4 separate regions of the Homo sapiens genome follow, and regions 1, 3 and 4 are each linked to region 2. Evidence: fine-mapped expression QTL. A gene starts in region 2. Each other region holds a variant in brackets. All regions are shown on one strand. Distances are from middle to middle.

What was found. PIP is the estimated chance that this variant, and not a neighbour inherited with it, causes the effect.
Region 1: its variant is the best candidate, but not a certain one, in a credible set for the expression of TRIP12 in whole blood (INTERVAL, PIP 0.62).
Region 3: its variant is the best candidate, but not a certain one, in a credible set for the expression of TRIP12 in whole blood (INTERVAL, PIP 0.88).
Region 4: its variant is the best candidate, but not a certain one, in a credible set for the expression of TRIP12 in blood mononuclear cells (TOPMed, PIP 0.54).

What each region holds. Positions count from the first base shown.
Region 1 is chr2:229,754,909-229,762,908 of GRCh38, reverse strand. No RefSeq gene overlaps it. Among named protein-coding and RNA genes, the nearest start is that of DNER, 44 kb to the right of the region's middle. The variant T/C (reference allele first, on the strand shown) is at 4,803.
Region 2 is chr2:229,918,158-229,926,157 of GRCh38, reverse strand. It overlaps TRIP12 (thyroid hormone receptor interactor 12), which reads left to right and starts at 4,149. Exons shown (of 42, transcript NM_001348323.3): 1 at 4,149-4,278. It overlaps FBXO36 (F-box protein 36), which reads right to left and starts at 3,655. Exons shown (of 4, transcript NM_174899.5): 1 at 3,549-3,655. The coding sequence starts at 3,644. RefSeq lists enhancers at 3,377-3,436, 4,093-4,593, 4,594-5,094, 5,732-5,831 and a silencer at 4,267-4,656.
Region 3 is chr2:229,817,008-229,825,007 of GRCh38, reverse strand. TRIP12 (thyroid hormone receptor interactor 12) reads left to right here. Exons shown (of 42, transcript NM_001348323.3): 9 at 6,496-6,644. Among named protein-coding and RNA genes, the nearest start is that of TRIP12, 100 kb to the left of the region's middle. RefSeq lists a silencer at 2,579-2,779. The variant T/A (reference allele first, on the strand shown) is at 3,441.
Region 4 is chr2:229,846,073-229,854,072 of GRCh38, reverse strand. All of the region lies in intron 4 of TRIP12 (thyroid hormone receptor interactor 12), which reads left to right. Among named protein-coding and RNA genes, the nearest start is that of TRIP12, 72 kb to the left of the region's middle. RefSeq lists enhancers at 2,559-3,237, 3,238-3,917. The variant TTA/A (reference allele first, on the strand shown) is at 3,779.

The sequences.
Region 1 (8,000 bases), 160 kb after region 2:
TGTCATTCCTTCCTCTTTTTTTTTGAGCCAGGTTAGTAACCTCAACATTAGCTGGGGCCGGACGCGGTGGCTCACGCCTGTAATCCCAGCACTTTGGGAGGCCGAGGCGGGTGGATCACGAGGTCAGGAGATCGAGACCATCCTGGCTGGCACAGTGAAACCCCGTCTCTACTAAAAATACAAAAAATTAGCCGGGCGAGGTGGCGGTCGCCTGTAGTCCCAGCTACGCGGGAGGCTGAGGCAGGAGAATGGCGTGAACCCCGGGGGCCGGAGCCTGCAGTGAGTCGAGATCGCGCCACTGCACTCCAGCCTGGGCGACAGCGAGACTCCGTCTCAAAAAAAAAAAAAAAAAGATTAGCTGGTCTCCTATGTTGCTCCTCCTCTCACTTGATGTGAGAAGGGCAGGAAGAAGGGTCGTGCTGATGCCTGGAATAACGCTGTCCTTCCTATGCAAGAAATTGCAAGGAAGCAGGTCCCAGAACTGCCCCATAGCCAGCTCAAATGTCCCATTGTGGCTTTGAGGCCCAGGCACACATGCTGGATTCTTGCACTCTCATTGGGAATTGAGGTTTCAGGAATCGATTTTGGTATCTTCTATGTGGCTATGATACATCAAAATGTTAATTAGGGACACTATTAACAATTTATTATCAAGAAGATTGTACTAAGGGATATTAGGGCAGAAAACACAAGTCCAGATTGCAAGGGGTCTAAACACTGGTTAATGTTAACGTGGGCAATTGTAGAGTTATACGGGGCAGCTGCTGTTAGTTGAAATGATCATCTGTAAAGTTAACAGTAATGTAAAGAAAACCCGATGGGCTCAGCTTGCAGTTTCTTGATGGAATTTGGACATTTGTTAAAACTCATTCATCCTAGTCAGTCCTATTCCCAAAGTGTGTTCCAAAACTTAGAATAGAACATGCAGCCCTTGGCATCCAGGCAGAGTCCCTGGCATCATGATAACTCACACAGACCTGTGTAAAGGGCTTTGTGAAAATAAACTTGGTGGAGCAGAAAGAGCCCCAGACAGAGTCAGAAGGCCTGATGTAGTCCTGGCTCCAGTCTTCCCAGCTAGGGGAAGCTAACCCCACTGAACCTTACTCTCTGTGTTTTTGTGAAGCCAGTTCAGTGATCTCCAGCTTTATGTTTTAATGGTAACATTCTTCAAATCTTGTATGATTCTTTAAAACGTCTCCCAGGATTTCTTAACAGGTATAGGCATTTTGCTTGATGCAGTTCTTCCTGGTAGAGGGTTACAGCAAAGCCCTTTGCTTCTAAATGTCAATAGCACCTTCCAGTCATTATGACAACTCAAAATGCCCCTTACTACTTCCAGATAGTTCAAATATCAACGCGTTATCTACTGAGTGAAAACAGTAATTGTGTGTTGCAGCTTTTGGAAAGCATTTAGATTTTATATTCAGCCAATAATTATAGTTAGTGACAAATCAAACCTTTGCAGAATTTATAAGTAGGCACAAGAGAGGGATAAGAAGAGGAATGTAAAAGTGACGATTTTTAGTCAGAAAAAGCCACAATCCTGTCCTCCCCTACTCCTCACACACACAACATCCCTCTCACCCAGCTTCCTTCGATTAGGAGGACGTTGTCTTACCACTCTGGCCTCCTACATAAATGAGAACCGCTTGTTTAAAATGTAACTAATTTTAAAAGGACTTTAAATTCAGAAAATGTCATTGTAGTTGCCCCTGTGATCAATAAAAACAGGCTTAATAACTAAATTCATTGAGAAAAAGCTTAATAGTTCTAATGAGAATGTTAAGTATTCAAGCCAGGTTTTTCAACTTTCTAGAACTAAATAAAAAAAAAGTTGGTCTTTAATTATTATAGGCTAATAGACTAGGCAAAGTAAGTTTTCTTTCCTCCAAGGACAATTTAGTGTTGTAATAGATTTATTTGCTTCCATTGTTCTGATAGCATTCTGGATGGATGGTGAGAATATGAAATCCATTTCCTCCCAAAGCATTCAATGGTGTTTTGGTGTTTAGAAAGAAAAAGCTGCAAGTTTTGTGGTCTTCCTCTCCAACATACCAACTTCCCTCCCCACTTAACACCCATGGGAGTGGGCAGGAGTGGTGTCTCAGTCCAATTTCTGGCATTATGACAGAATACCAAAGACGGGATAATTTATAAAGAAAGATTTATTTGGATCACAGTTCTGGAGGCTGGGAAGTCCAGGAGCATGGCACTGGCATCTGGTGAAGTCATCCCATGGTGGAAGGCATCACATGGCAAGCAAGCATGCAAGACAGAGGAAAAAGGGGCCAAACACGCAAAAGCTAACCCACTCTCAAGGTATTGGCATTAATTTTTTCATGAGGGTGAAGCCCTTATGACCCAATCACCTCCAAAAGGCCTCACCTCTTCACATCACCACAATGGCAACCAAGTTTCCAACACATGAACTTTTGGAGGACTCATTCAAACTATGACAGATGGGATGACGAATCTCTTTAGTCACGGATCGACTTGACATTCATCGTGAAATGGATGAATTAAGAAATAGATGCTTTTTGTTAGTTATTGTTTTCCCTTTACATGGAGGTTTTTTGTTTGGATCTCATGGTCAACTAAGTGTACTACAAATATTTTAGTGTACTGTGTTCAGTCTTCCCATTTTATCATCTGCAGGAGATGCCATGGTATCAGGTTGTTGTTTTTCTTAAATCTCGTGCCTGGCATAATGCCTGGCCTAGACTCACATAGTCACTGAAGGAATGAATGAGCATTTCTGTACTGTTGCGTTCTTTCCTCTTTGTCAGTCAGGTTGTTTGCATAATCTGTGCTCTTTTACTTCAGGACTTTAGAATCCAGGGAGAAAGGAAAATGAAATTGAAACAACTATGTATACAGTTAAGTATTATGTGGATTTGGAAAAATCCAGAGGAAAGCTGGGGGTAATCAACAGAATTACACTGAGTATGAAAACCTACCTCCTAACATCACCATCACCACCAGAAGCAGTATAAACTGGCCTGTAATCATAGGTGACACTTTGTTCTTCGCCAAAATGTCCTGTTGACATGGTGCTATTTAGTTTTTGGTGAACAGTTCACTTGGACAATGTAGATAAAACTAAAAGAAATCAGATGTCATTCCAGAAGTAAACTCAAATTCATGACAAAGTTAGGATGTGCTAGGAGTTAGTAGGTATATTAGCACAGGTCAAAGTTAAAAATGTAATAAAAATGATGAATGAAAAAGAAAACCTCAATGTTTCTATCACCACAAAAAAAAGTTACAGGAGAAGGAGAAGTCCATTTTAAAAACAAACTAATGTTCCATCAGTTGGAAGATTATGAGTAGAGAATGTGATACTTTTTTTTTTTTTTTTCAAAGTCCATTTAGAACAGACAGCCCAGGAAAGATGAGCAACTTTTTACATTGCCAATACTTTCACAGGCTCCGGCTCTAATTTAAATTATGTTTTTAGGTTTTTTATGATGATTTAAAAAAAAAAAACTCAGTAGTACTGCTTATTTCAATTCTGAATTTTGTACACATTGGTAAAAACTGACATTTCAATACTAAACTCTTTCCTGCTACTTATAAAGTTTTTTTATGAAGGTTTCTATTTTACTGCTATGTTGTGTTTCAGAAAGATGGCTGGGCTCTGAATTCAGACAACTGAGGCTCTTATTTGAATTTGACCTTGGGTAAGTCAAGTAACTTTCACTGGGTATTTTTTATCTGTAAAATTATGGAAGCAGACCGATTAAGTCCCCTTTGGGTTCTAAAATTCTAAGTTTCTAACCTCTATTGCAGTTCTTAGATTATCTTTTTCAGATCAACTCGATTGAAGAGTGTGCATTAGATCCTATTCTAATCAAGTTGAACAAAATAAAGTAATTGTTAACTACACAGTTTTAATGCCAAAATAAAAGTGCAGGTTTCTTTTGAAATATATATTGAGTTGCATACTTGTGTCACTATTAATACCAGATATTAAAACAACTCAGGAAATAAATGTTATTTTTGTTTTATTTCTTGATCTTTTAAATCCATCTTAATGTTAAGTACTAGTGGGTTTTCTTGGTTTCCACCAACTTGTTCAATGACCATTTGTCAAGTTAGGATGTGAGACTGGGTAGGACTGGGATGTTACTAACCACTGCCATTGGTCAGATTCTTTATACCCCAAAACGTAGAGGTGTACAGATTCTTGGAGCTGGAAGGACGTCCATTAAAAAGGCAATACAGCCATCTATTTAAAAAATAATACAGTTGATATATTTCACCTAAAATTACATAGTTTGTTATGCTAACAATGGAGTGAGATATATAACCTTAAGTAATCCTAATGCTGGAAAGATATTTAAGGTACTGCTTATCAGACCCCTTCATACCTAGTTGAGGAAATAATAGCTCAGAGAGGTTGAGACCTTCCCAAGATCACCCAGGTTTCCACCTGGATGTAGAATGTAGGTTTTCTGATTTCCAGCCAGTGGCCTTTCCATAAAACCAGAGATTTTCGTCCATGATTCCTGTGAGTTGAGAGTCCCAATGTTATCTTTTCTAAAGTCTAAAAGATTCATCTTTGAAGAGACGGGTCTAGAGAATTGCCTCTTCCCATACTTCCCAGAAGTGATCACCCACCATATTTGTTCAGGAAGCAAGAAACCAGGTGGGAACCAGTTTTTCACTTTGTCAGACTAAAGAAGCAGTTTAATAAGTGCAGCTTATTTTGGGGTTCCTTTTGGTGAGTGAGTTTGTTTCTTGCTCACCCTCACTGATGATGGGATGAACGGAACAGGAGCTGTAGAGATGGCCTTTGCCTT[T/C]GATTGTCACACTTTCTGCTTTGAACACAATCACTTGATGTTTTGTAGACAAAATTTGCCATAAAACTTTTGTTCTGTAATTTTCTACTGTCCTGCTCCATGGGCTTCCAATCAACTTTCTCCCTGTTAGTCAACAACTACAACAACAAAACCACTTTCTGGCTGGGCCCGGTGCCTCATGCCTGTAGTCCCAGCACTTTGGGAGGCCGAAGTGGGCAGATCAGTTGAGGTCAGGAGTTTGAGAGCGGCCCGGCCAACACGGCAAAACCCTGTCTCTACTAAAAATACAAAAATTAGCCGGTGTCATGGCATGCACCTGTAATCCCAGCTACTTGAGAGGCTGAGACAGGAGAATGGCTTGAACCTGGGAGGCGGAGGTTGCAATGAGCTGAGATTATGCCACCGCACTCCAGCCGGGCTGACAGAGCAAGACTCTGTTTCAAAATAAATAAATAAATAAATAAATAAATAAATAAATAAATATAAAAAATAATAAATAAAAAACACTTTCTCTTCTCTCTCCTAGGCGGGGGTTGCAGGGCCAGCTCAGTGATCTCCAGTGACCATTCATTGGGACGGTGGGTGTAATCGTTAGGCACTGCTGTGTAACAACAAACAGTCTGAAACCACAAACATTATTATCTTACTCATTCCAATGGTCAGGAATCGGGAAATGCCTTAACCAGATTGTCAGGTTCAGAGCCTCTCATAAGTCCACAGGGGCTGTAGTTTTTGGAAGCTGAAGGATCCTCTTCGAAGCTATTCATATGGCTATTGGCAGGAGGCCTCAGTTCCTCGGTGACTGTTGGCTGGAGACTTCGGCTCCTCACTGGATACCTCTTTCTCCATGGGCTGCTTGAGTATCCTGACACAATGGCTTGCTTCCCCCAGAGTAAGCGATCTGAGAGAGAGAGAGAGAGAGGGAGAAAGAGAGAGAGAGAACACACAAGACAGAAGCTACAGTCTTATAACCTAATGACGGAAGTGGCATTTCATCACTTGTGTTATATTCTTTTGGTCCCAGAGACTAATCCTGGCACAGGGTAGGAGGGGACTACATGAGGATGCTGCAAATACCTGGAGGTGCAGGACCCCTGGCGGCTGTGTGGGAGCCACAAAGACACGAGCAGAGACGAAGGTGTCTGCTTTAGACTCCAACATGCCTCAAACCCAGCAGAGAGAAGTTAGAAATGCAACTGAGGGCCCAGCCTGATTTTTCTCCCTCTTGGCTTCTCTCTCTCTCTCTCTATATATATATATAGTATATATATATACTCTATACTTTCTCTCTCTATATATATATATTATATTTTAGACAGGGTCTTGCTCTGTCACCCAGGCTGGAGTGCAGTGGCATGATCTTGGCCCACTGCAACCTCTGCCTCCTGGGTTCAAGTGATCCTCCCGCTTCAGCATCCCGAGTAGCTTGGATTACAGGTGTGCACCACCATGCCTGGCTAATTTTTGTATTTTTTAATAGAGATGTTTTCACCATGTTAGCCAGGCTGGTCTTGAACATCTGGCCTCAAGTGATTCTCCTGCCTCGGCCTCCCAAAGTGCTGGGATTATAGGCGTGAGCCACTGCACCCATTGGTCAATATTTTTTGAGCCCCAGTTCCACTTGAAAGAAAATGATCTTTAAGTGATTTTTATTTCTCGTCTTACTACAAAATGTTTTGCTGTGGGAAATACTGAAAAAATAACAAGAAGAAAAAATTAAATTCCACAAATGTAGCACCTAGAAATGTAGCGCCTTAATTGAAAATGTAAAAAATGAAATAGAGTATAGAATAGAAAAATATCAGCGTATATTGGAGGTACTATGGGTAAGTATTACTTTGTGGAACTTTTATTTCAGTTACAAATATACGTATATATTTGCTTCCATAGAGTTGAGCTAAAAATACAAATAAAATATATGTGTATGTATAATTAATTAGTTACAGTGTCAACTGTACTTCTGACTATATGTTGTGGTAAAACCCACTTTTGGCCAGGCATGGGGGCTCACACCTGTAATCCTAGCACTTTGGGAGGCTGTGGCAGGCGGATCACCTGAGGTCAGAAGTTTGAGACCAGCCTGGCCAACACAGTGAAATCCCGTCTCTACTAAAAGTACAAAAATTAGCCTGGCATGGTGGTGGGTGCCTGTAATCCCAGCTACTCACGAGGCTGAGGCAGGAGAATCACTTAAACCCAGGAGGCAGAGGTTGCAGTGAGCCAAGATGGTGCCACTGCACTTCAGCCTGGGTGACAGAGCAAGGCTCCATCTCAAAAATAAAATAATCCCCCCAACTTTTTTTTTTTTTTTTTTTTTTGATACAGAGTCTTGCTCTGTTGCCAGGCTGGAGTACAGTGGTGCGATCTCACTGCAACCTCCGCCTCCCAGGTTAAAGCGATTCTCCTGCCTCAGCCTCCTAAGTAGCTGGGCCTACAGGTGTGCACCACCACGCCCAGCTAATTTTTGTATTTTTAGTAGAGCTGGGGTTCACCATGTTGGCCAGGATGGTCTTGATCTCTTGATCTCATGATCCACTCCCCTCGCCCTCCCACAGTGCTGGGATTACAGGCGTGAGCCACCGCCCCAGGGCCTAAAACCCCCTTTTGATCATACTTAAGTTTATGCTAATGAAGTAATTCAGGATGAGGTCCCTAGATAGCTTCAGGATGGGGCTGGTCACTAGGATGACACAGTGGTTAGTTAGAGTGCTGGAACTTTCAACCTTGCCCGCCAACCTCCAGGAAAGGGAGGAAGAGCTAGCGCTTGGACTCTATGAAGACTTTTGAACAAGATTTGATGGATTTTCAGGTTGGTGAACACATCCAAACGCTGGCAGGGTGGTGGTCCATCGAGGGCACTGCAGGTTCCCCCACTCCATCTCCAGCCTTGCTCAATGCTTCTCTTCCATCTGCCAGTTCCTGAGTTATAAACATAAGTAGAGTGCTTCCCTGAGTTCTATGAACAATTCTAGCAAATTATCAAACCCATCATCCAAGGTCATGGCTGTTTAGTGATATGTAATCCATCTCTCTGAGTGTAAGAAATAATATGGCAAATGTAATTATACCATCTTGCATTTTAATAATGGGAAGACATTATGACTAAGTATTTTTGTTCCAGTGCAGTTGACAGTATTTCTCAATGAAGAGGAGCATTAACTAGCAAAGAAAGAGTGTAATTCATTTATTAGGGCAACT
Region 2 (8,000 bases):
CTCAGCCCCCCCTTTTTTTTTTTTTTTTTTTTAAGAGAAGGGGTCTTGCTATGTTGCCCAGGCTGGTCTGAAACTCCTTAGTTCAAGCAATCCTCCCACCTGAGCCTCCCAAAATTCTGGGATTACAGGTTTGAGCCACTGTGCCCAACCCTTGAGTGAATCTTTGATTTAGAAAGCAGCGCACTATTTTTTCTAAAGCTGGAGATCATCATTATAAAGATCAGCTTCGAGAAACTAAACTGACCCCAAGCTGTAATCCAAAAGTTATTTATTTGAATAAAACCCCTCTCCCAAGACCCAAAACAACATGGTATCAAGCAGTAAAAGAGAAGTGCCTGTATAAGCATACAGTATATTTCAAATGTTACTATATAAACAAAGAAAATGTTTATGTATAACATTTATATTCTGGACTATGTCAGTGGTGGTATGACACTAATGAGAGAAATATCTGCCCTCAAATCCATGTCAAATGTGCAGTTATTTGGATTTAAGGCCAACGAAAAAGATGCAGTGAAAAAGAGACTAAAAAACAGAATCAGCATGAAAGAAGGATTCATCTAAATCTGGGGCATAATTTGGATAATATACAACATTAAAAAAATAAAGACAGGAGAAAGGGGAGGAAATGTACAAGAAATAATTTTAGAAAGTCATTCCAGAAAAAAAATCTATCTTATAAAACATATTTTAATGCTAGTCTTTTAGTACTTATTTATGTCAGGCCACCTCTTACTGGATGTTTGGTTTCCTGTGCTGAGACTCAGAAAAATTGTCTTGTGGTTAGAAAATAGCATATTCTCAAGGCAGTTGACTGAAAAGTATATTTTTTTGGCATGCCATTTTTTACAACAAATTTTACTTTAAAAAGAGGGTGAATTAATTAGCTTGGAGATTAACTCTCACTGGTAGAAGTGTAGTGGATTTATTCAGCATGCTTAAAAAAGAAAATGGATCAGAATTTAGGATTTTATATATATGTAACTGACAGAACCTGAGATAAAGGAGAGTTTTTCACTTGCAAAAAATAAAAAATAAATAAATAAATAATAAAAATAAAGAAAGAAAAAGAAAAATTAAGAACACTGAAGGGATGGTGGGAAAGATTTCTTAAAAAAGAGTAGTTAGGGCCGGGCGCGGTGGCTCACGCCTGTAATGCCAGGAGATAGAGACCATCCTGGCTAACACGGTGAAACCCCATCTCAACTAAAAATACAAAAAATTAGCCGGGCGTGGTGGCGGGCGCCTGTAATCCCAGCTACTGGGGAGGCTGAGGTAGGAGAATGGTGTGAACCCAGGAGGCGGAGCTTGCAGTGAGCTGAGATTGAGCCACTGCACTCCAGCCTGGGCGACAGTGCGAGACGCTGCCTCAAAGAAAAAAAAAAAAAGAGTAGTTAGAGGAAGGCATGCGCCTAAGTTAGACTTGAGAGCAAAGTCTGAAGAACACCAACAACAGAATTATTCTTTAGGAAGCCGAATGCCAGGGAGCACTCCTAAGGATAATTTACTAAAATAAAAAGGTAACAAGATACTCAGCCTGGTGAGGCTTACAAATGAGAGAAATGAAGCATACTTGTAAAATACCAGACCTTCAGGGGAAAGAAAATGCAAAAAAAGACAAATTTTTAAAGGCTGTAAAAATTAAAACATTCTAACTTACTTGAGGTAGATAAAAATAGAAAATCATGTAAGATTAGAACAGATTATATTTTTGACCACTCATGTTAGGAGGTGAAGAAATGTTAGGATCATAAATCTTAAAGCCAGCCAGGCTCGGTGGCTCAAGTCTATAATCCTAGCAATTTGGGAGGCCGAGGCAGCTGGATCACCTGAGGTCAGGAGTTGGAGACCACTCTGGCCAAAATGGCGAAACCCCGTCTCTATTAAAAATACAAAAATTAGCTGGGTGTGGTGGCGCACGCCTGTAATCCCAGTTACTCGGGGGGCTGAGGCAGGAGAATCGCTTGAACCCAGGAGATGCGGAGGTTGCAGTGAGCTGAGATCGCGCCACTGCACTCCAGCCTGGGCAACAGAGGGAGACTCCCTCTCGATAAATAAACAAACAAATCTTAAAACAAATGGAAAAATCAATAATCCGTTTAAAAAATGTACAAGGCCGGGCGCGGTGGCTCACGCCTGTAATCCCAGCACTTTGGGAGGCCGAGGCAGGCGGATCACGAGATCAAGAGATCGAGACCATCCTGGCCAACATGGTGAAACGAGGTCGCAGTGAGCCGAGATCGCGCCACTGCACTCCAGCCTGGCGACAGAGCGAGACTCCGTCTCAAAAAAAAAAAAAAAAAAAAAAAACAACACCAAAAAAAAAGTACAGAAAAGGATACCTTTCAGTATTTCATACATCACTAAATGTGCAAAACCCCCTAAGAACAGTTTAATTAAAAATTTGAGTCTGACCCTGGGCCCACTGCCTATGAATTAGCCCTGCTCCGCAAGGAGCAGTACTGTTTTAAAAAAAATTTTTTTTGGACAGGCTGATTTTACATTTGTAATATTTCTAAATCTTAAATTAAAAAATATATATTAACATTTATATTTTAAAAGATGCTTTCAAAAATATAAAAAAATTAACTCATTACCTATTTTGTTTAAGGGCTCCTGGAAAAACTGAGGGAATGATCAATATGCACACCAAAACAAATATATACAAACTTCTAAATTTCATTTTATAGGAATAGTATCTATTGAAAGGGCAGGGTGCATGAATAACTCAGTGACAGGCGTAAACTCAGCCAGGATTAGAAACGTCTTCCCAATGGAGGCCCCGCTCAAGTTGAGAATTTCATGGACACAGTAAATCATCCAAAAGCCCACCTTCAATAACCAAAGTAGGCATAAAAATAGGCCGATGGTTACTTTGGAGATAATATAATCCTCGGTCTTATTGTTGTGGAGCAGATGTCATTATGGGTGGGGCTGAAGCGCAGAGCAGCTGAAACATTTTTATACCACCACCCGCACACTTTCAATGGGATAGAAGGGACTCCAAAAGGTAAGAGCTCCCAATCGTCAGTTGCTACTAGAAATAACTAAGTTTTGATGTGGCCGTGGCACGCGTAAAGGCCACAAAGAGATTTATAAAATTCTCCATGATTAATTCCTATCCTGGAAAAGAGGCAATCTCCTTTTCCCCTCCCTAGCCGGCTCCTCCTTGGGACACTTGGCTGAGTCGTTCTTTCCCTCCTTCTCACGCTGAGGTGAGGCCGCACGCAAGCCGGAGACGCCCGTTTTCCTCTTCGCGCGGAGGAAACTCTACGGGTAAGAAGCCGGGGTGGCGGGAAAGGAGCACGCGGCACCGCGGGGAGGCAGAGAAGGCTTGCCAGGGACTAGCCGGGCTCGGGGAGAGCAGGGACACGCGGGCCGTCGGACCGAGGAGGCCGAGGTGACGAGGAAAATCTCCCGGCGCGGAGCCGGGACTGGGCGCTTCCGGCGGGCTACGGTTGCTCTTGGCCTAGCACAGCCTGCGTCCCGGGCCCCAACCGGGCCAGGTAGGGAGTTAGGAGAGAGGGTAAACCGCGGCTCGCACTTGCCTGAGACCGGGTGACCAGTAACTGGTAATAGTCTTTGCTAGGCGGCGGGCCTTGTCCTACAGTTTCAAAGAGAGTCTCCGGCAGCCACGACGCCATCTTGGGACGCCACCGCCGTCGCTAAGACAACCAGGAAGGGGCGGGGCTTGGTTGGGGTCAAGGGGCCAAAACCCTAGTTTAAATTGAACCACGCTTATGAGCTGGCAGAAGGATTTCTAACTTGGGGCGATCGTCCCCTCTTCCAAGGGTCTTAGGGAACCCTGATCCGTGAAATTTCCAGCTCCAGGTCCCGGGTGACCCGAGGGGGAATTAGTTCCTGCTACCACGGAGGGGAGGGGGTGACCCCGGCGGAGGGATACCAAGTAGATCTCCACAGTCCCCTTCCTGGTCCCTCGAAGGGATCGGGCGGAGATCGGAGGCTGCTGAGAGAGTCGAGCCGGGAGGCGTGGGAGGGAGGGGCGATGTGATGGGCCGCCAGTAGGCAGCGGTGCCGGTCCCGCGGACGAGCCCGTAACCGGAGCCCGAGGACAAAGTAGTTCCCCGAGGGTGTCAGAGCAGGCGGGGAGGGAGGCGGCACGGGCGGAGGCGCACGCCGGGCGCGGTGCTGCGGCTCAGCTGATAATTGAAGGAACCCGGAGCCGCCGCCGCCGCGCCGCTGGGGGGGGTGGGGGGAGCTAGTGGAAGTTACTGCCGCGCCACCGAGTCCGGACCGGAGACTTTGGGGCCTAACTAGGTAATTGGGGCGCAGCTCTGGGCGGCGGGGGCAAGCCTTGGGGGAGGGGGCCAGCTGAGGGGTTGGGGGGGCGGGGGGAGGAGCTGGAACAGAAAGTCCCAGGAAGCCCGGTTGTGTCATCGCCGCGATTCGGCCCCCGCTTGGCCTGCTCCCGGCGCCGGCGGCGGCGGGGCCGCGGAAGGACCGGGCCGGGGGTGGACGGGAGAGACGCTCGAGGGCGGCCGCGGCCGGAGGGACCGGGGCCTGGCGGGAGGTAGGGGTCGCTGGGTCCCTCCTCCGGCTTCCCGCAATGAGGAGGGCCCTTCACAGAACCGGGGTAAGGCTTGCGGGTGTTGGGGAGCTCGGCGGGGACCAAGGGGGGCCGGAAGTGGGCTTTGGAGCTTGGAGGGTGTCTGGGAAGAGAGAAAGTGGGGGGCCGGAAGTGCAGGTGGGGGGTGTGAAGACGGCAAGGGTTCCCCGGAAATGGGACGAGGGGCCCGGAAATCGGGAAAGGGGAGGCTCCGGGGCCGTGGACGGCCCGGAAATGGAAACTAGGAAGCAGCTCCAGTGACAACAGTTGTGGGAAGCGAGGGTCAGAGAAGGGAGAGGCCAGAGAGACTTTAGACCGCAGTAAGGGGTTTCCTGCCCAGGGGGACGGCGAGGGACGGTTGAGGGAGGGCGAGCCCGGAGACGGGGTCTGCGCGGGGCAGTTTTTTAAGCCGTGGGAAGTTGAGGCTGAGGGAGGATGATGACGAGGGGGGCATGCAGGGAGGCCTAAAGAAGCCGAGAAACTTGACTGAGAGGAATAGAGTATCCTTTTAAATAGATCAGAATGGAAATTGGTGGTAGGTGGGTTTAACTAGGACTTGGGGGAGGGAGGTGGGCCAATTGTCACCCCAATCGTATTAGCATTCAGAGCGAGTCAGGCGATTAATTTATTTATATGTGGATTACATAAAACCTATTATTTACAACGTTTGTCCATCAGTTCAGCCCCTCTCCTTCCTTCTCCATAGTGAGTGGGTTTCTAGTACAGGAACAAGTTAGAGGGGAGTTCGAATAACGAAGGTAGTAAAACCTCAAATCCTGTCTTCCTCGGCGTCTCTCCCTTCCTCAGAATAAGAAATCCTTCATTTCCTAGACGGAAAAATGCGGAAAAACATAAAAACACATGTAAATCGGGGGGAAATCACACTTTGAACTCCTGGTGGGGGACAGGAGGGAATTGGTTACCTTACGTGGTGAGGAGATAACGGAAGGGGCAGCTTCCAAACCCTTAAGACAAATGTTGTGTTTTTTTGATAATGCTGTTTTACTTTGGGGGAGGTTTAGCCTAAGCATCGAGTCTGGTGGTGGGCATAGTTTAATTGCTTCTTTAGTTAATTGGGGGAGGGAATGTGTTTGTGTGTAAAGGTTGGGCCGGTGCGGGGGGAGGCGGGTACGGTTAATAGCGCAGTGAATCCGTTCTAAGTGGACGTCTAACTGCTCTCCTGCTGTCTCCTTTCCTAGTCGCGGTCCTCGATCTTGCCTGGGCTGCCAGATCACCCGATCTCCGGGCTTTACTCCGTTTTGTAGGCCCTTTAGTGATGTGTTTAACTTTATGTTCCTCTCGAGAGTCTCATTAGGTATTTTTGGCATTTCATTTTTTAAAGACCTAGCAAGTTGAGTCTCAGAGTCTCCTCTTTAAAAACAAAACAAAAAATACGGGGTAGAAAGTTGAAAGAGCTATTGAGTGGGGTAAAACGACGCTCAGAACAAAGGTCCTAGTTGTGTTAGAAAAAAAGGCAAGAGGCCTGTATATGAGGCCTGTGTGTGTCGCATTTACACCCCGGGGGGGTTGAGGAATGGAATTAGCAGAGGTTTAGAGACAATAAATTGTAGAGGATTTTATTGAGGCTGATTTTCATATTTACCACATGCAAAGTGATCAATATTAAGTGTAAGTTTTAAAGTATACAGAATTTCTAATTCTTTCTTTTGACACTTCCTGCTGTGTGTTCAGCCCCAGAAATGTTGAACTGCTGTGACTATCTTTGTGAGATTGAGGGAGTTTTATTTTAAGCTTAAGAGTACATAATATGATTGGGGTTTGTGGGCTTTGTACATGTCTGCCTTTCTATGAATGTGCCAATATCCATAAGAATTGGAAAACTGTAATTAAGATTATCATTGTTTCCATTCAATCCCCAGTTTTTCTGGAGTGTGAGCAGTTTTTAAGTCTGTTCAGCTGACATTTATACTACTTAGTTTGAGTCTATGAACAGGCTTTATTTTTCTTTTTTTTTTTCATTTACTTTCAAAAAGTTTGAGAACAATTTTGGCAGTTAGGTTCCAGAAGGTGCTAAACTAAAGTAGTTACATTTAAAAAACGAATGGGATGCTAGGTAGATCACGGTAAAATCAGTACTTTCACCTGGCAAAGTAAATTTGTAGTAATGTATGATTCCATGTATGATTCCTTTCCCATTGTAACTTTTTTTTTTTTTAAAGCAGAATCTTGCTCTGTCGCCTAGGCTGGAGTGCAGTGGTGCAGTGTAGGCTTAATGCAACCTCTGCCTCCTGGTTCAAGCGATTCTCCTGCCTCAGCCTCCTGAGTAGCTGAGATTACAGGCACGCGCCACCACGCCCGGCTAATTTTTGCATTTTTAGTAGAGACAGAGTTTCACCATGTTGGCCAGGCTGGTCTCGAACTCCCGACCTCTCAGGTGATCCGCCTGCCTTGGTCACCCAAAGTGCTGGGATTGCAGGGGAGAGCCACCACGCCGGCCCCAGTGTAACTTGTAAGATTATTGTATTTATGTTATCTAGACAAGGTTTTAATATCCTGCTTTATTTTAAGGTTTTCATCTTAGCAAGGAAAACATCACTGGCTTGGAAATTCACACACTACCAGTTAGTAGCTTTGTGACCTTGAGCTAGTCACTTAACCTATCTGGTCTTCATTTATTTTATCTGTAAAATGGGAGTGGGTAATCTCTATTTTACCTCACTGGGTGGTTGTGAGACCCAACAGATGTAATGACTGAAAAAAAACAACATGCTAAATAAATTAATTTTAGAAAATTACATGAGCTGTTTTGAGGTCATTTTTAAAAGATACAGCTTCTCATTAGTCGTGGTGGTCCATGGGGCAGGGGAGAATTAATGTAAACTAGGTTGAAGGTACAGAGTTATAGAACTTCATAATTTGAAATTGCTGCTTAATTGGTAGTAGAATTTGGGTCTCATTTTTGTCTTTTTAAAGTTACCTTCTTTTTTTGGTATCAGCATGCCAGATACTTGTTTGCCATACATTCTACTGAAAAAACTTGTTAATATGTTTAAAGAAACTTCAAATTCATTTACGTTTTTTATTGACAAAGTACCTGTTCTGGTTTGTGACTCTAATGAAATTGACTTAATGTAAGAGATTACAATTAGGGAATAATGCTTCTGAATCTTGGTCACTGTTTTCTTTACAGAACCTAGGGAACTTTCCCCCCTTTTAAGTGGATGGGTAGGGATCTTTTTGAGCAAATGTGATACCAGTTGCTCCTTTATTTTTTTGTTTGCTATTTGATGGACTCAAGTCAAAACAGCAACCTACTTGGTTTTTTAATCTTCACTGAAATCATTCCTTGCAATTGCCTGTTTGACATGGACTTTTCCCTCATTTAAATCAAGCAAGCACCCACTATGTACAGAAAAACATAGAAGATAAAGGATGTGAAGAACAACTTACAACTCATGTCTTCAGATCACTT
Region 3 (8,000 bases), 100 kb after region 2:
ACCAAGTTGGATTGTTTCATTTACTTCATTTTGCTTCTGATTTTTAGGGACTGCTTTTTAAAATTTATGTTTTGCTTTTATAATTATGTAATATTTACATAGTTCTAAAAGTCAAATCTACAAACAACATATATTTAGAAAAATCTTATCTTCTTTTGCTTTCCATTTTCCCTGCTTCTTCCTCTCACATAAATAATCTTTTAAATTTTATGCCTTGTCCTTCTGTTATTTACTTTAAAAAATCCATAAATATCTATATTGTCCATGGGAATGCCTTTCTCAGTTAAGAGTAGCAAACTTTATACACTTTACTTTGCTTTTGACACTATATTTTGGTGTTCACTCTTCGTGTTCACTCTTCATAGCTGCCACATGCATGTTGCATGTTCAACTGATAGGCCTTTGTAAAGCTGCCACGTTACTCCATTGTGTGGGTATACATAGTTTATTTATATAGTCCCCTGTTGGACATTTGAGTTTTCAGTTTTTTTTTCTATTGGCAAGGCTTCAGTGAAATGTAGCTTTCGTATTTTTTCAAGCATTATCTTTTGGATAGATTTCTAGAAGCAGGTTTGCTGCTTAAATGGGTGTAAATGCATACGATGTTTTTGTAGGTGTTGCAAACTCCCCCCCATTTGGAGTTGCACCATTTTGCGTTTCCACCAGTCATGTGTGAATGACAGTAGTATGGTATCAAGCTTTTGAATTTTTACCAAAATTCATTGTTTCTCTAATATTAACTTTTTTTAGTTATATGTATCTTCGTATATTTCTTTTAGTGGTACCCTAGAGAGTATAATGCAAATTCATTGGTTTATTATAGCATACCTTAAATTAATACTTTATCATATCTCAAACAGTACAAGAACCTTACAACAGTTTATTAACACTTTTTACCTCCTGCCCTCCTTTATGTTTGTTGTATTTAATTTGTTTTACCTATATATACGTGTTATAAACTTGATAGGACGTTACTTAGAATATCTGTTTTCTTTTATGTTTGCCAACATGCTTAACCTTTGCAGTGCTCTTAGTTTCTTCTTGCAGTTTCTTTTTTCTTTAAAGGATTGTTTCCTTCTAGCCTAAAGAACTTTTTTTTTTAACATAGTGTCAGACTATTAATAATGATTTCTTTCTGTGTTTGAGAAATCCTTGATGTGTCTTTATTAATTTATGAATGAATTAATGAGATGCCATCTCGCCATGTTGCGCAGGCTAGTCGCAGACCCTTGGCCTCAAGTGATCCTCCCGCTTCAGTTTCTAAGTTGCTGGGGTTACAGGCATGTGCTTTATTTGCACTTATTTTTTGTTGTTGTTGTTGTTTTTTTTTTTTGAGACAGAGTCTCCTCTGTTGCCCAGGTTGGAGTGCAGTGGCGCGATCTCAGCTCACTGCAAGCTCCGCCTCCCGGGTTCACGCCATTCTTCTGCGTCAACCTCCCGAGTAGCTGGGACTACAGGTGCCTGCCACCACACCTGGCTAATTTTTTTTTTATTTTTGGTAGAGATAGGGTTTCACCGTGTTAGCCAGGATGGTCTCGATTTCCTGACCTCCTGATCCACCCCACCTCGGCCTCTCAAAATGCTGGGACTACAGGCGTGAGCCACCATGCCTGGCCAAGCCTAGGAAGCAGAGGTTGCAGTTAGCCGAGATCGGGCTACTGCAATCCAGCATGGGACCCTGTCTCAAAAAAAATGTAAAAACCACTTATTTTTTAATAGCTTGACTATATAGGGTTTAAGTGATGTTTCCTTGACCCTTAATGTGCTTGCCCTTCACTGAACTTTTGAATATGTGAGTTGATATCTTCAGTTTTAGAAAATTCTTGGTCATTATTTCTTCTAGTATTGTTTCTCTTATCTCATCATCAGATTTTCTCCTTCCTTTCCTTTTGGAGAGTATCAGGATCATACACATTTAAACTTTACACTGCATCCAGCATGTCTCTCTGGCTCTGTTTTATTTTTGGTTTTGTTTTCAGAATTTTTTCTCTTTGCCTAGTTGGAAAACTTCCTATTGATCAGTTTTTAAATTCACTAGTTCTTTTTTCTGCTGTCTTCAATCTTTTGTTAAACCCGTCAATGAGTTCTTAATTTCAGATACGTTTTTCAGTTCTGAATAGTTTTTTGATTCTCTTTATAGATGCCAATCATCTGTTGAAAATGTGTATATTCTTAATCAATTTTGTCCATCTTTGCTTGTATTTTTAATACTTTATAAAACATTTGTCTTTTCATTCTAGAAGTATTGGTCTGCTTTTATTGTCTTTTTTTCCCCCACTTAATTCTCAGTCCCATATTCCTGCCTCTTTATAAGTCTAGTAATTGTTTGGTTATGTGACAGACGTTTTGTATAAAAGAACTAAAGTGGCCCAAAATGATATTTTCTGCTAGTGCTAGCTTTCTTTTTTCTCTACCAAAAATAAAGGGTCCAGAGCTGATCACTCTAACTTTAATCAGGACTTGAGCTTGTTTTAACCAGAGTTGTAATTTTGGTATGACTAATTTCACCTCTGGTAATTTTGGTATGACTCATTTCACCTCTTGCTAGTCACTGTTTTCTTTGTTGTGGCCCTCCTAGAATTTTGATTGACAACTTTGCAAATCTATGTCTCCTCAGATTTGAATAGTTGAGCAGTCTCAAAATGTGGCAAGTATCTTGGGAGTTCAGATTTGAATAGTTGAGCAGTCTCAAAATGTGGCAGATTATCTTGGGAGTTCAGGTACCAGCTGTGTGTCTTTGACGCCTACTCTCTCTGTTGAGATGTTGGCTTCTGAGCACCATGAGACTGCAGAAGATTTTCTTCTATCTTATCAAAACTTCTTACTCTCCCCTCTATCAGTTTTTTGTTTGTTTGTTTGTTTGTTTTGAGACGGAGTCTCGCTCTTGTCGCTCATGCTGGAGTGCAGCGACGTGAACTTGGTTCACTGCAACCTCTGCCTCCCGAGTTCAAGTGATTCTTGTGCTTCAGCCTCCCACGTATCTGGGACTGCAGGTGCACACCACCGCGCCCGGCTAATTTTTGTATTTTTAGTAGAAACAGCGTTTCACCATGCTGGCCAGGCTGTTCTCAAACTCCTGACCTCAGGTGATCCGCCCATCTTGGCCTCCCAAAGTGCTGGGATTACAGGTGTGAGCCAGGGTATCTGGCCCCTCTATCAGTTTTCACAGTTCCAGAACTCGGTACCTGTCTGTGGGCCAGTTGATTTCAACACATTAGCTTCTTGTGACTCCCTAAAGCACTATAGGCTTCTGTTTCCATTCCTATCAGAAATTAGCAAACTACTGCCCAAGGGCCAAATCCACGCTCCTGCTTGTTTTTATACTACCTGTGTACTCTTAAGAATGGGTTTTATATTTTACGTGGCTGAAAACATTTTAAAAGAGAATATTTTGTGATGTGAAAATTAAATGCAGATCAAATTTCAGTGTCCATAATGTT[T/A]TATTGGTATACAGTCATGTTCATTTGTTTGTATTAGTCTTACTTTCTATGGATACTTTCCAGCTACAGTGCTAGAGTTGAGTAGTTGCAGTAGAGACCATATGCCTGTAAAGCCCAAAATAATTGCTATCTCTCCCTTGAAAGAGAACGTTTTCCTGCCAAACCCTGATCTGTGATAACAGTTCTCAAAGTGTGATCTGTGGACTCTTGGTTTCTGAGAGAGACCCTTAAATGAGTTCTATAAGGTCAAAACTAATAATAGTTACCAAGATTTTTCCTTTTCTACTTCATTGATGTTTGAACTGATGGTGCAAAAGCTGTAATGGGTAAAACTGGTGGGATCTTAAGCATCAAAGCAGTGGCACTAAACGGTACTAGCAATCATTGTGTTTTTCACTGCCACATACTCCTAATAAATATAATTCAGTTTTTATCTAAGATGCCCTTACTGAACCAAAGTTAATTTAATTAGGTCTTTACTCCCAAGACATGTCTTTTTAATACTCTTTGGAACAAAATAAGGCCAATCTTTTCTATATACAGTTGACTCTTGAACAATATGAGTTTGAACTGTGCTGGGTCCACTTATTCATGGATTTTAAAAATAAATACAGTTAGCTTTCTGTATCCATGAGTTCTACATTAGCAACCAAATTCAGATTGGAAATACAGTGTTTGGGCCAGGCGCGGTGGCTCATGTCTGTAATCCCAGCACTTTGGGAGGCCGAGGTGGGCAGATCACCTGAGGTCAGGAGTTCACTACCAGCCTGGCCAACATGGTGAAACCCATCTCTACTAAAAATACAGAAAAATTAGCCACGTGTGTTGGCTTGTGCCTGTAATCCCAGCTACTTGGGAGGCTGAGGCAGGAGAATCGCTGGAACCCAGAAGGCAGAGGTTGCAGTGAGCTGAGACCGCACCACTTGTTTTGGAAAATAAGGTCTTTTAAAATCAAAATTATTTATATTAATATATAATGAGTTAACTGGCAAATATTTAAAATTTTTGTATTTCAATTAACATATTTTAAAATTATCAATAAATATAACCCACATAAACAAAAGTGCTTTGTGGTACCTCAGTAGTTTTTAAGAGTATAAAATGATTCTAAATTCAAAATCCACTGCTCTAGGAGTTGGTTTCTCCTCATAAATCAGAGGATAAATCAGGTTTTGGTTATGGTTTTGGCTTTTTGTTGTCATCTTCAGTTTAGTGTAAGTTATTTTTAGGAACATCCCAGATGTTTTATTGGTATTGATGATAATTTTGATTATGCTGTATAAGATCCATGTCCTTAAGAGTTGCCAACCCCAATGGTTATAAGACCTCCATCTAGTTGCATACATGTTGGTTCTTTCTTTTAGGGGGTTGTGCTCTTAGGCCATACTTGATATGAACTGTTTAATCCTTTTAAAGTCATGTTAGAATCAGTGGAGGATTCATTTGTTTTCACTATTTTTCTATCATTTTGTTTTTCCTTCCACATTATGTCAACACAGAAGTGATAAACCTGCTGTCACTAAAATTGGTATTATTTAGTTTAAAATTGTTAAATTGTATTTCCCTGAACTTTTCTTCTGGTGTATTTTTGGATGGATTTTTAATTATGGTAAAGGTAGGTAGGCAGCGATAGCTATGGAATGCAGTAGCCACAATCTTAAACCATAAAACAACTTCCATTGATTGCTATGTGCCCCTGTGAGAGGTGTACGCCCCCAGGAATATCACTGAAGCTCAGTTGAAATTATTAGGTTCAGTTTTTTGAGAATTTCACATTCATTGACAGTTTCCAGACATATATCCCATTTCTACACATTTCAGTACTCAATGATATAGGACTGGAAAAGTCCAATTTGCGAAGAATAACTTGAAAAGGTGTAAGAAGTGAAGGAGCTTTAAAAGTAACATCATATAAGATTGGTTAAGTGTTAATTTAATTAATTGTGGTTTCAAGTAGGAAAGTGTCCATGAAAAATGAAACACATTCATAGACTTTATTTTTTAAAATTAATTAATTAATTTTGAGATGAAGTCTCAGTCTGTGGCCCAGTCTGGAGTGCAGTGACATGATCTCGGCTCACTGCAACCTCTGCCTCTCAGGTTCAAGCAGTTCTCCTGCCTCAGCCTCCTGCGTATCTGGGACTACAGGTGCACACCACTGCGCTCGGCTAATTTTTGTATTTTTAGTGGAGATGCGGTTTCGCCATGTTGGCCAGGTTGGTCTCAAACTCCTGACCTCAAGTGATCCACTTGCCTTGGCCTCCCAAAGTGCTTGGATTACAGGCATGAGCCACTGCACCCAGCCTCTCTAGACTTTATTTTGGAGTGTATTGTTTAGCTTAATGACAACGTACTTCTCTGTGGTTGTTGAGTATTCACATTTTTCAATTGTTGGAGTAGTGGAATTAAGTCTTAAAAGTAGGAACATTCTAATAGCCATCATCTGTGCAGGAAATGAAAGAGGATGCAAGGGTTTATAATTGTGTGTGTGTGTGTGTGTGTGTGTGTGTGTGTGTGTGTGTGTGTGGTTTTTATTTTTACAGAATATTCTTTCCATTCTCTTTTTTGTTAGATACGTTGTTGTGTTTTTTATTTCCTTGCCCTTTCATTGTTAATTGGATTCTATTTATTCTGGAACAGATATTTAGAGGTGTATAACATTTCCTTTGAAGTATGGGCATCATTGTTTAACAGGTTTTTATTATTGTAGCAAGCCTTTGCTCACAATTGATATTTCCTTAAAACAGATAATGTTAAAGCTATCAGTTCATACTGGTCTTAGGGATATTATTTTTTGTTTTTGCTGTAAAACCAGTCAAGTTTTCAATTAAGAAGACAGAAGTATATAACTGTGAAAGCATGTTAAGGCAGAGTAGATCCAACTAATTTAATTCTTCCTTCAATGTATTAGCAGTGAGCCTTAACCCTGGTATAGACCTAGTCTTTCATTAGGATGCAAAGAAGATAAGCAACCAATTACATTTCGAGTCACACCTTATACCTAGTAATAATTTTCTTAAATGTTTAAAGATAATAATTATTTTTTTCTCTAAAGGTTCTAAGGCCCAGCAGCTACTACAAGGATTGCAAGCCAGTGATGAAAGTCAACAGCTTCAGGCAGTTATTGAGATGTGTCAGTTACTGGTCATGGGAAATGAGGAGACACTGGGAGGGTTTCCTGTCAAGAGTGTTGTTCCAGCTTTGGTAAGCATAATGTTTTTCCCTCGTTTTTACCTCATTTGTCCTCTGAAATCTGCCGATTTTGTACTGAATGTATGATTATTGTCATTATTAATTTTTAAAACATGATAGAGTTAAGAGAGGAGTATATGACTTGGTGCTTGTATTTCATGCTTACAGATACTGTGAGCAATTGCTAATGAGTTAGCAAATTTTCTAAATCATTTTTTTGATGAATAGTCACCCACTTCTTGATACTTAAATGACTGGTTTTAAGTTGTTCACCTCATCAGTAACCTTGACTCCTGCCATGTAAAATGCACATGCTTTTTCTTTTAGCCTGGTGATCCACGGAGCAATAGGCCAGGGAAGCTCACTCTGGGTTGTGTCGGGGGGCCAGAAAGGTTTCATATTTAGTACGTGTCTACATGGGAATACTACTCAAGCCATATGGTATATATGTGGATCCTTTCAGTTTAAAAGCTTTTATGTTGGCCAGTGGCAATGTCTGACGCCTGTAATCCCAATACTTTGGGAGACCGAGGTAGGTGGATCTTCTGAGGTCAGGAGTTGGAGACCAGGCTGGCCAACATGGTGAAACCCCATCTCTACTAAAAATACAAAAATTAGCCGGGCATGGTTGCAGGTGCCTGTAGATCTCAGCTACTCAGGAGGCTGAGGCAGGACAGTCACTTGAACCTGGAAGGCAGAGAATCGCTCTAATCTCTTGCAGTGAGCCAAGATCGCGCCACTGCACTCCAGCCTGGGCAACAGGAGCAAAACTCTTGTCTCAGAAAAAGAAATAAAAGACTTTAAAAAATCTTTTTAATGCCTTTTCAACACAGTTGTGAGTTGATATTTTGATATGATAGATTTATTAACAGCTTGATTCCTTAAACTTTTAAATATGAAAACAATAGGAAGAAAAATTGCCATTATCAAATGTAGGCACCTTAGCACAATACAGCATTTAAATAGTGGATTGATAATTTTCTTTGTCCAAAATTAAAGAAATTAGGTATAATTTAAGATTAAAATTTGAGTCTAAATCAAACACTACCAAAAGACAAACATAAACATTTACATTTGTGGTATGTTTTATTTTGGAAATTACAGTTAAATGCCATGTAAATCTTTTTTGTATATCCAGTAAAGCTGACAGAAAATGAAGTTATGATTTATACATCATATTGTCCCATTTGATGAGATTATCAAATTATGGAGATAGCTTGAGTTTTGGTGAGAGAGCTGAGTAAAGAAAAGCCTGTGAAATACAAGGTGACAATCCTTATTCTGCTTGTTCTTATTTGGATGGCTCAGCTCTGGCAGAGTTTGATAAAGGATAGAACAATTTCTTCACCTGCCACCCAGATGCAGATA
Region 4 (8,000 bases), 72 kb after region 2:
CCCTTAAATTTACACAAGAAAGTCAAAACTAGGAATATATATACAAATAAAATTGCATAATTTTATATGTAAACATGTAACCTATATAAATGGATACATCAACATAAATGAAAACAAAAATGTCAATATTAATACATGTACATTGCTTTAAAAAATATTATCTCCTCATAGTTTGGCGAGGTTGGGCAAATCATTCAGCTGTAGTTATGATACCAACCCTATTACTAATCTTATTTGCAAAATAATAAGATTCCTCCTTGTGAAGCATAAATGAAAGATTTTCAAAGTTGTTTTCACATATGAAGTGCCATAGAATGCAGCAACATATTGTAATGTACCATGTAATGTTGAATTGAGAGTTATGGTCATGTATGTATGTATGTATGTATGTATTTTATTTATTTATTTATTTTTGGAGTCAGAGTCTCATTCTTGTCGCCCAGTCTGGAGTGCAGTGGTGTGATCTCTGCTCACTGCATCCTCCCCCTCCTGGATTCAAGTGATTCTCGTGTCTCAGCCTCCCAAGTAGCTGGGATTCACAGGTGCCACCACACCTGGCTAATTTTTGTATTTTTAGTAGAGATGCGGTTTTGCCATGTTGGCCAGGCTGGTCTCGAACTCCTGACCTCAGGTGATCTGCCCGCCTCGCCCAGCCAGGTCATGTATTTAAAGGGCTTTTGTATGCATCAGGGTTTTTTGTTTTAACGTTAATTCAGAGGCCAGAATTAGATTCAGTGGGTGGATGAAAGTTGAGAGATGGGCTTCTGATTAATACAAATCTTAGTAGAATAAAAATCTAAAAATTATATTAAAAATAGAGTAGGCCATTGTGAGAAATTTCACATTGGGTAGGTTTTTTATTTTATTTTGGATATCCTTTGTTTTCTTCCAGTTTTTAAGAATTGAACCTATTTGAATGTGATGTGTTTCCTTAGGTAAAGACTTATTCTAAGACATAATTGGTCAGTAGGAGAGCTTTCATAGTAAAGGAAATGTTTTAAAAATTGTAGGAACAACAGTATTTTTAAGATGCTTTATGAAAAACCATTCTCCATGTTCAAGTATTATTCAAGGAGATTCTAGATAAGCAGGAATATATTGAAAGCTGTGGGAAGACTTGCAGTAACTTCTTAACCCAATAATTTGCAAATTAATTTGACCAGCTATTACTTGGGAACCAGTAGTGGTTCATGGAATACACTCAGGAAATGATATAATACATTTAGTGAGGAAGCTTAAACAGGAAGACCTTGTTATTGTGCTGCTTAGTCAATTGTTGATAGACCAATGAACAAGTTCCCGGCGAGGCACTAGGGCTGGCAGAAGATCTAGTGAAACCGCTACTTTAGTGATAGACTTCCTGAAGCATTGCTGCTTGCCAGCTGTATCTCATCAAAACAGCTCTGAGACAAAGGTCATTCTGTGTTACTTGGTAAAAGTCTCCTGAGTACCCCAGAAAGAAAATTGTTATGTAACAATTTTTAATGTACATTAGGAAGTTATAGCTGTCTCTTGTTTAGCCTAAGTAAGTAGACATTTTTGCAAATTTTATACAGCATAAATATAAAACCAGTAGGGTAATATAATGATATAGATGGCTTCAAAAATCTTTTTATATTTTAATATACTTTAAATAATTTTATAATAGTTTGGCTTCAAAATATATTTTGCTAATCTACCTTCTTATAAAAGCTAATTTAAAAAAAAATTTGCAATAATTTCAAAGTGAGTAGATGATGATGGTATAGAATTATAAGAAACAATTGGTGATCAAAATCTGAGTAATTATGGAACCTGTTTATAGAAAAACTTAAGTTATATTTCCAGGCAGATGTTCTATTGAAGATCTACTTTACTCTCTATTATTTAAAGTGGACATCATGTGCACGTTATTAGTAACATAGCAGTAGTTAACAGCTTACTTTTGTCTTGAGTTTCATATTCTCCTGGTGACTTTGCATGTAGCCTGTGGTTTTTATCAGACCTAGACAAGAACCAGGCAAAAGCCAAATTCTAGAAAAGAGATTCTGATTAGATTAGGAAGACTTAGTGCTTTGGGCCCCTAGCACGGAGGGAGGAAATAAGAATGAGTTAAGCAGGAGAGATGAATTTAAGTTAGATACATGGTTTTGTGTCCGGAATTGGTGGATTCTTGGTCTCACTGACTTCAAGAATGAAGCCGCGGACCCTCATGGTGAGTGTTACAGCTCTTAAGGTGGCGCGTCTGGAGTTTGTTCCTTCTGATGTTCGGATGTGTTTGGAGTTTCTTCCTTCTGGTGGGTTCATGGTCTCGCTGGCTCAGGAGTGAAGCTGCGCGGTGAGTGTTACAGTTCTTAAGGCAGCACGTCTGGAGTTGTTCCTTCCTCCCGGTGGGCTCATGGTCTTGCTGGCTTCAGGAGTGAAGCTGCAGATCTTCGCGGTGAGTGTTATAGCTCATAAAAGCAGTGTGGACCCAAAGAGTGAGCAGTAGCAAGATTTATTGCAAAGAGTGAAAGAACAAAGCTTCCAGTGTGGAAGGGGACCCGAGCGGGTTGCCACTGCTGGCTCGGGCAGCCTGCTTTTATTCTCTTATCTGGCCCCACCCACATCCTGCTGATTGGTAGAGCCGAGTGGTCTGTTTTGAGAGGGTGCTAATTGGTGCATTTACAATCCCTGAGCTAGACACTAAAGGTTCTCCATGTCCCCACCAGATTAGCTAGATACAGAGTGTTGACACAAAGGTTCTCCAAGGCTCCACCAGAGTAGCTAGAGAGTGTCGATTGGTGCATTCACAAACCCTGAGCTAGACACAGGGTGCGGATTGGTGTGTTTACAAACCTTGAGCTAGATACAGAGTGCCGATTTACAATCCCTGAGCTAGACATAAAGGTTCTCCACGTCCCCACCAGACTCAGGAGCCTAGCTGGCTTCACCCAGTGGATCCTGCACCGGGGCTGCACGTGGAGCTGCCTGCCGGTCCCGCGCCATGTGCTCGGACTCCTCAGCCCTTGGGTGATCGATGGTACTGGGTGCCCTGGAGCAGGGGGCGGCGCTCGTCGGGGAGGCTTGGGCTGCACAGGAGCCCACGGAGGTGGGGGAAGGCTCAGCCATGGTGGGCTGCTCTCCCGAGGCCTGCGCTGCGGGAAGGCAGCTAAGGCCCGGCGAGAAATCGAGTGCAGCGCCGGTGGTCTGGCACTGCTGGGGGACCCAGTACACTCTCCGCAGCCGCTGGCCCGGGTGCTGAGCCCCTCATTGCCTGGGGCCGGCAGGGCCGGCTGCTCCTCCGAGTGTGGGGCCCGCCAAGCCCACACCCACCCGGAACTCCAGCTGGCCCGCAAGCGCCGGGTGCAGCCCCCGTTCCCACTCGCGCCTCTCCCTCCACACCTCCCTGCAAGCTGAGGGAGTGGGCTCTGGCCTTGGCCAGCCCAGAAAGGGGCTCCCACATTGCAGCGGTGGGCTGAAGGGCTCCTCAGGTGCCGCCAAAGTTGGAGGCCAGGCAGAGGAGGCGCCGAGAGCGAGCGAGGGCTGTGAGGACTGCCACACGCTGTCACCTTTCAGTTTCACCAACTTGCATCTTGCAGGATCATCTCTACTTGCGTGAAAAAGGTAGATAATCTGTGAGCTCTGTGAAGAGTTGGGCAGGGAGCTTAAAAGGAAATGGGTTGAGTGTCAGTTTTCTATATTACAAGGCAGCTATTAAAGTAATTTAGCAACTTAAAAGTTTAGAAGTTCCAATATGTGACCGCTTTGAAAAATTACTAACAAATAATCCTAGTGTTTTTGAGGCTTTAAAAAAACT[TTA/A]AACAGAAGTGGCCAAATTTAAAAAAGAGATCATTTAATTGTAAATACAGCATTGACTTCTTTGTTAACAAGGCTTTGCTTTGTATTACATTGTTTGGAAATTATAAATGGCCATGTTATATATTGTTTTGTATGCAAGGTCAAAATAAGAATTAAATTAGCCAAATTATGTTTTACTCAATTTACATTAGTAATTGCCCTTTATATTCTTACGTGTATTCTGGAATGGTTTTGACACTTCTGATTCTGATATATGTTTGTTAAAAGTAATCCAGAAAGTACCAAAATATACAAAGAAGAAAAATACAAAATCACTTTTAATTTCATTCACCAAGGGCTACCTCTTTTTTTTTTTTTGGTGTGTATTATGCCAAAAATTTTCACTTTATATTTATCAACACTTATGTGCAGTGTTAAGTGAAAGAGTTATATAAGACCTTTTTTTTCTTCTTCTTCAAGAAGATAATCATAGCTTACTGCAGCCTTGATCTCAAAAGATTCAAACAGTGTTCCCACCTCAGCATCCCGGGTAGCTGGGACCACAGGCACATGCCACCATACCCAGCTAATTTTTTTAGAAAGATTTTTTTTTTGTAGAGATGAGGTCTCACTATGTTGCCTAGGTTCGTCTCAAACTCCTGGACTCAAGCGATCCTCCTATCTAGGCCTCCGAAAGTGCTTGGATTATAGGCATGAGCCACTATGCCTGGCCAGATCTATTATTTTTTTTTAAAGCAGTCTTTCTGCCACTTTGCCCTTTTCTGTGGCTGATTATTTTGAAGTTTCAGTGTCTAGATTATGTGCTTTTATATGTCCCTTTGTTGATTCTTCTCCCCCACCCCCAAGTGTTTGATCCCTGTTGTGTTCCCCTTAGGGAAAATGAAGATTTTGCATTCTAACCTTACCCCACCCCATTCACCTACCAAACACATACTGTTACATACTTCCTGTCTTCCCAGTGATGATCAGCACGCAGGGTTTATTGTATCGTGAACATCTAAATGTTATTTACACTGAGCCACGTAAAGGAACATTTCCTTTCTCACACATTTTTGCTTTTCCTGAATTTTAAATTCCTTTTTGTTGTTGTTTTCCTTACTTTCCCATGAACTTACTCAAACTCCACATTCCTTACTAATTGTCACAATCTTTTCTCAAGCTGTCTGCATGCATTTGTTTCATCTTGAAGAAATGAGGCCTCTGGATGGTTGTTCATTATGCCTGGTTATACGGCTTCAGCCTTGGGATTTTCTTCAGTCTTCTTAGTTTCCCTTTTCTAGATTTCATGTCATCTTGGTTTCTTGTTTTGGTGGAATATTTCTTCTTGACTCTAAGGAAAAGTATGAGATTTTAATAATTTACAATTTATTTTTTCAAAATTTAGATGTCTGAAAATGTTATACCACCCTGATATTTATTTGCCAGATTGGTGAATATAGAGTTCTGGGTTGGGAATTACTTTCCTTCAGAATTTTCAAGAATTATATAGTGTATTCTGTCTTTCAATACTGGCACCATTCCTAGTTCTGATTTATTCCTTGATAGGGTGACCAACTGGTTTTGCTTTCTCTGGATCTGGGGCATTCTGAAGACTCAGGACTTACAGCTCTAAAACCAGCATAGTCCTAGGCAAACTGGGACTGTTGGTCACCGTGTACTTGTTTGTTTTCTCTTTCTTGATTTTCTATTGAGTGCTTGTCCTCTTAAATGGTCTTGATCTTACTGTTTGACATTGCTTTCCTTTTTCGTTCTGTTTCTGGTAGATTTCTACATCTTCCAACTTTTCTCTTGAAATGCTTTTTTTCCCCCATGTTTGCCATGTTTTATTTCCAAGAGGTGATTTTGTTTTCATTTTCTTGTTTATAGAATCATGCGTTTGGTTTATGGTTGCATTTCTTTTTTGATGACATTAATGGTGAGTTTTCTTTGCCTGTGTAATCTCAAGTATTTGTGTGTGTGGGGGGGGCGGGGGGGGCCTGCATTTTGGATTGGTTTTGTCTTTCATGTTAGGAACTTTCCTCATATTCTGGTAATTCTGGTAATTCCTGGTTGTCTCCTCATACTCAAGTGTAATTCAAGACCAAAAGTCTAATTTATAAGCTCTGAGTACATAAGGGAGGTTTGACCGAGATTCATTGTTTAGTGATCTGGTTGGGTCATTTTGTTGTAAACTTCCTCTTATCATTATTTTTAGATCTTTTTTTCTTTAGCTGGTAAAATTCCACAGAGAAGATTGTTTCAAACTTCTGCCTCAAGGTGAAGCCCTAAGTGCCTGAGTTCTGGGGGCCAAGTGGGAGAAGAGGCCACAGATGGAGGCAGGATAATGTATATTGTCAGACAGTATGTCTGTACTCGATTCCCTTCTCTCCCTCTTATTTTTGGTGTAGTGAACCTATTTGTACTGTGTACTTTAGTCAGGAATTTCTATATTCTATACTTCCTAAAGAATAAAGGTCTTGTTTTTTGCTGGAACCAGGAGAGGAATGGTTACCCAGCTGTACAAGTGTGGGAGAGGATCTGAGGATCTGATGCCTTGTAAACAGCCTATCAGCCAATCTTCAGTTTTAATCCCAACACTGCCCTAGAGGTATCTGGCATCATCAGATCCTGAGCCTTTTTGGGTTTCTCTGGTGTCAGTTTGATTGGTAGTTAATCTCAGCTTTCTACTTTCAGCTTTCTGGACTTCCCAGTGCATTTAGCCCCGGCATTTCTGGTTTTCATCTCCTAAAATTGTATTGTAACAATAGTGTCTTCCATTCTTCTCATCCTTGTAGATTTATGTCTCAGATTGTTTTAATGCTGTATTAGTGGCATTTCATGTGGAGACAGAAGTGAGTGCATGTGTGTTAAGTCTTCTGTCTTTACCCAGAAGGGAGACACTTCGCTAGGCATATGCAAAAGTATGATCTCGCTGTACATGACAGTGGGCATTACTTTTTGAGTGCCTGTTATGTGGCCAGGCTCTGAAATAGACATTTGATGTCCGTTAAATTTCATCTTCAGAATGACAGAGCAAGGTAATAGTTGTGGAGAAACAAAAGTGCATTATTTGTCTAAACACTTTGTAATAGAGTGGTTTCCTTTCAAATAACTATAAATTACATCATTCGTAATGGCTAGATATGGATGTACCCTAATTAAGTATAGCTTTGTAATTTACACCACTCTTTCCTTGTTAAGTCACTGGTTATATTCTTTTTAGATATTGACATATATTTTGAAACTGCACTTAGAAATACATGAATTCCCACCAGCTGTGTAAAAGTGCCAACATGTTCAAATCCTTATTAAATAATAACTGTTTTCTTGCAACTTTAATTACCATACTGTTTTATTTAACTATTCCCTGTTATTGGGCATCTAGCTCCTTTCTAGTTTCTCCTCATTATAAATACTGCTTAGATGAATACCTTTGGACATTTCCAATATTTGTAATTCATATTGACAAATCAGTGCATGAAATGCTGTGCATTGACTAGGAAATAAAAATTTGCTTTAAAAATTGCATTTGGGATTTAGCTCATTATCTGCAAAATCTGTCTTATTATTACTGAGTTATTTTAAAATAAAAGTCTGTGATTCCTTTTTATAACCTCATAGATTACTTTTCATTTTTTTAAATTTATTTTTACCAAAGTAACCATTAATATAGTTACACGGGCATACCTTGGAGATGTTAATGCACTCAGTTCCCAGCCACCACAAGAAAATTAAAATCACAGTAAAGTGAGTTCCATGAATTTTTTTGTTTCCCAGTGCACATAAAAGTTGTACTTACACTATACTGTAATCTAGTAAGCATGCAATAAATAGCATTGTGTCTAAAAAAACAATGTACATGGCTTAGTTAAAAATATTTTATTGCTAAAAATTGCTAATGATCATCTGAGCCTTAGCAAGTCATAATCTTTTTGCTGGTGGATGATCTTGCCTCAGTGTTGATAGATGTTGACTGATCAGGGTGGTGGTTGCTGAAGGTTGGTGTGATTGTGGAAGTTTCAAAACGATAAAGTTTGCAGCGTTGATTGACTTTTGCTTCCACGAAAGATTTCAATATAGCATGCGATGCTGTTTGATAGCATTTTATCTATAGTAGAACTTCTTTGAGAATTGGAGTCAATTTTTTTCCAACCCTGCTGCTGCTGCTTTATCACTAAGTTTATGTATATTTTAAATCCTTTCTTGTCATTTCAGTGATGTCTACAGCATCTTTCCATGAA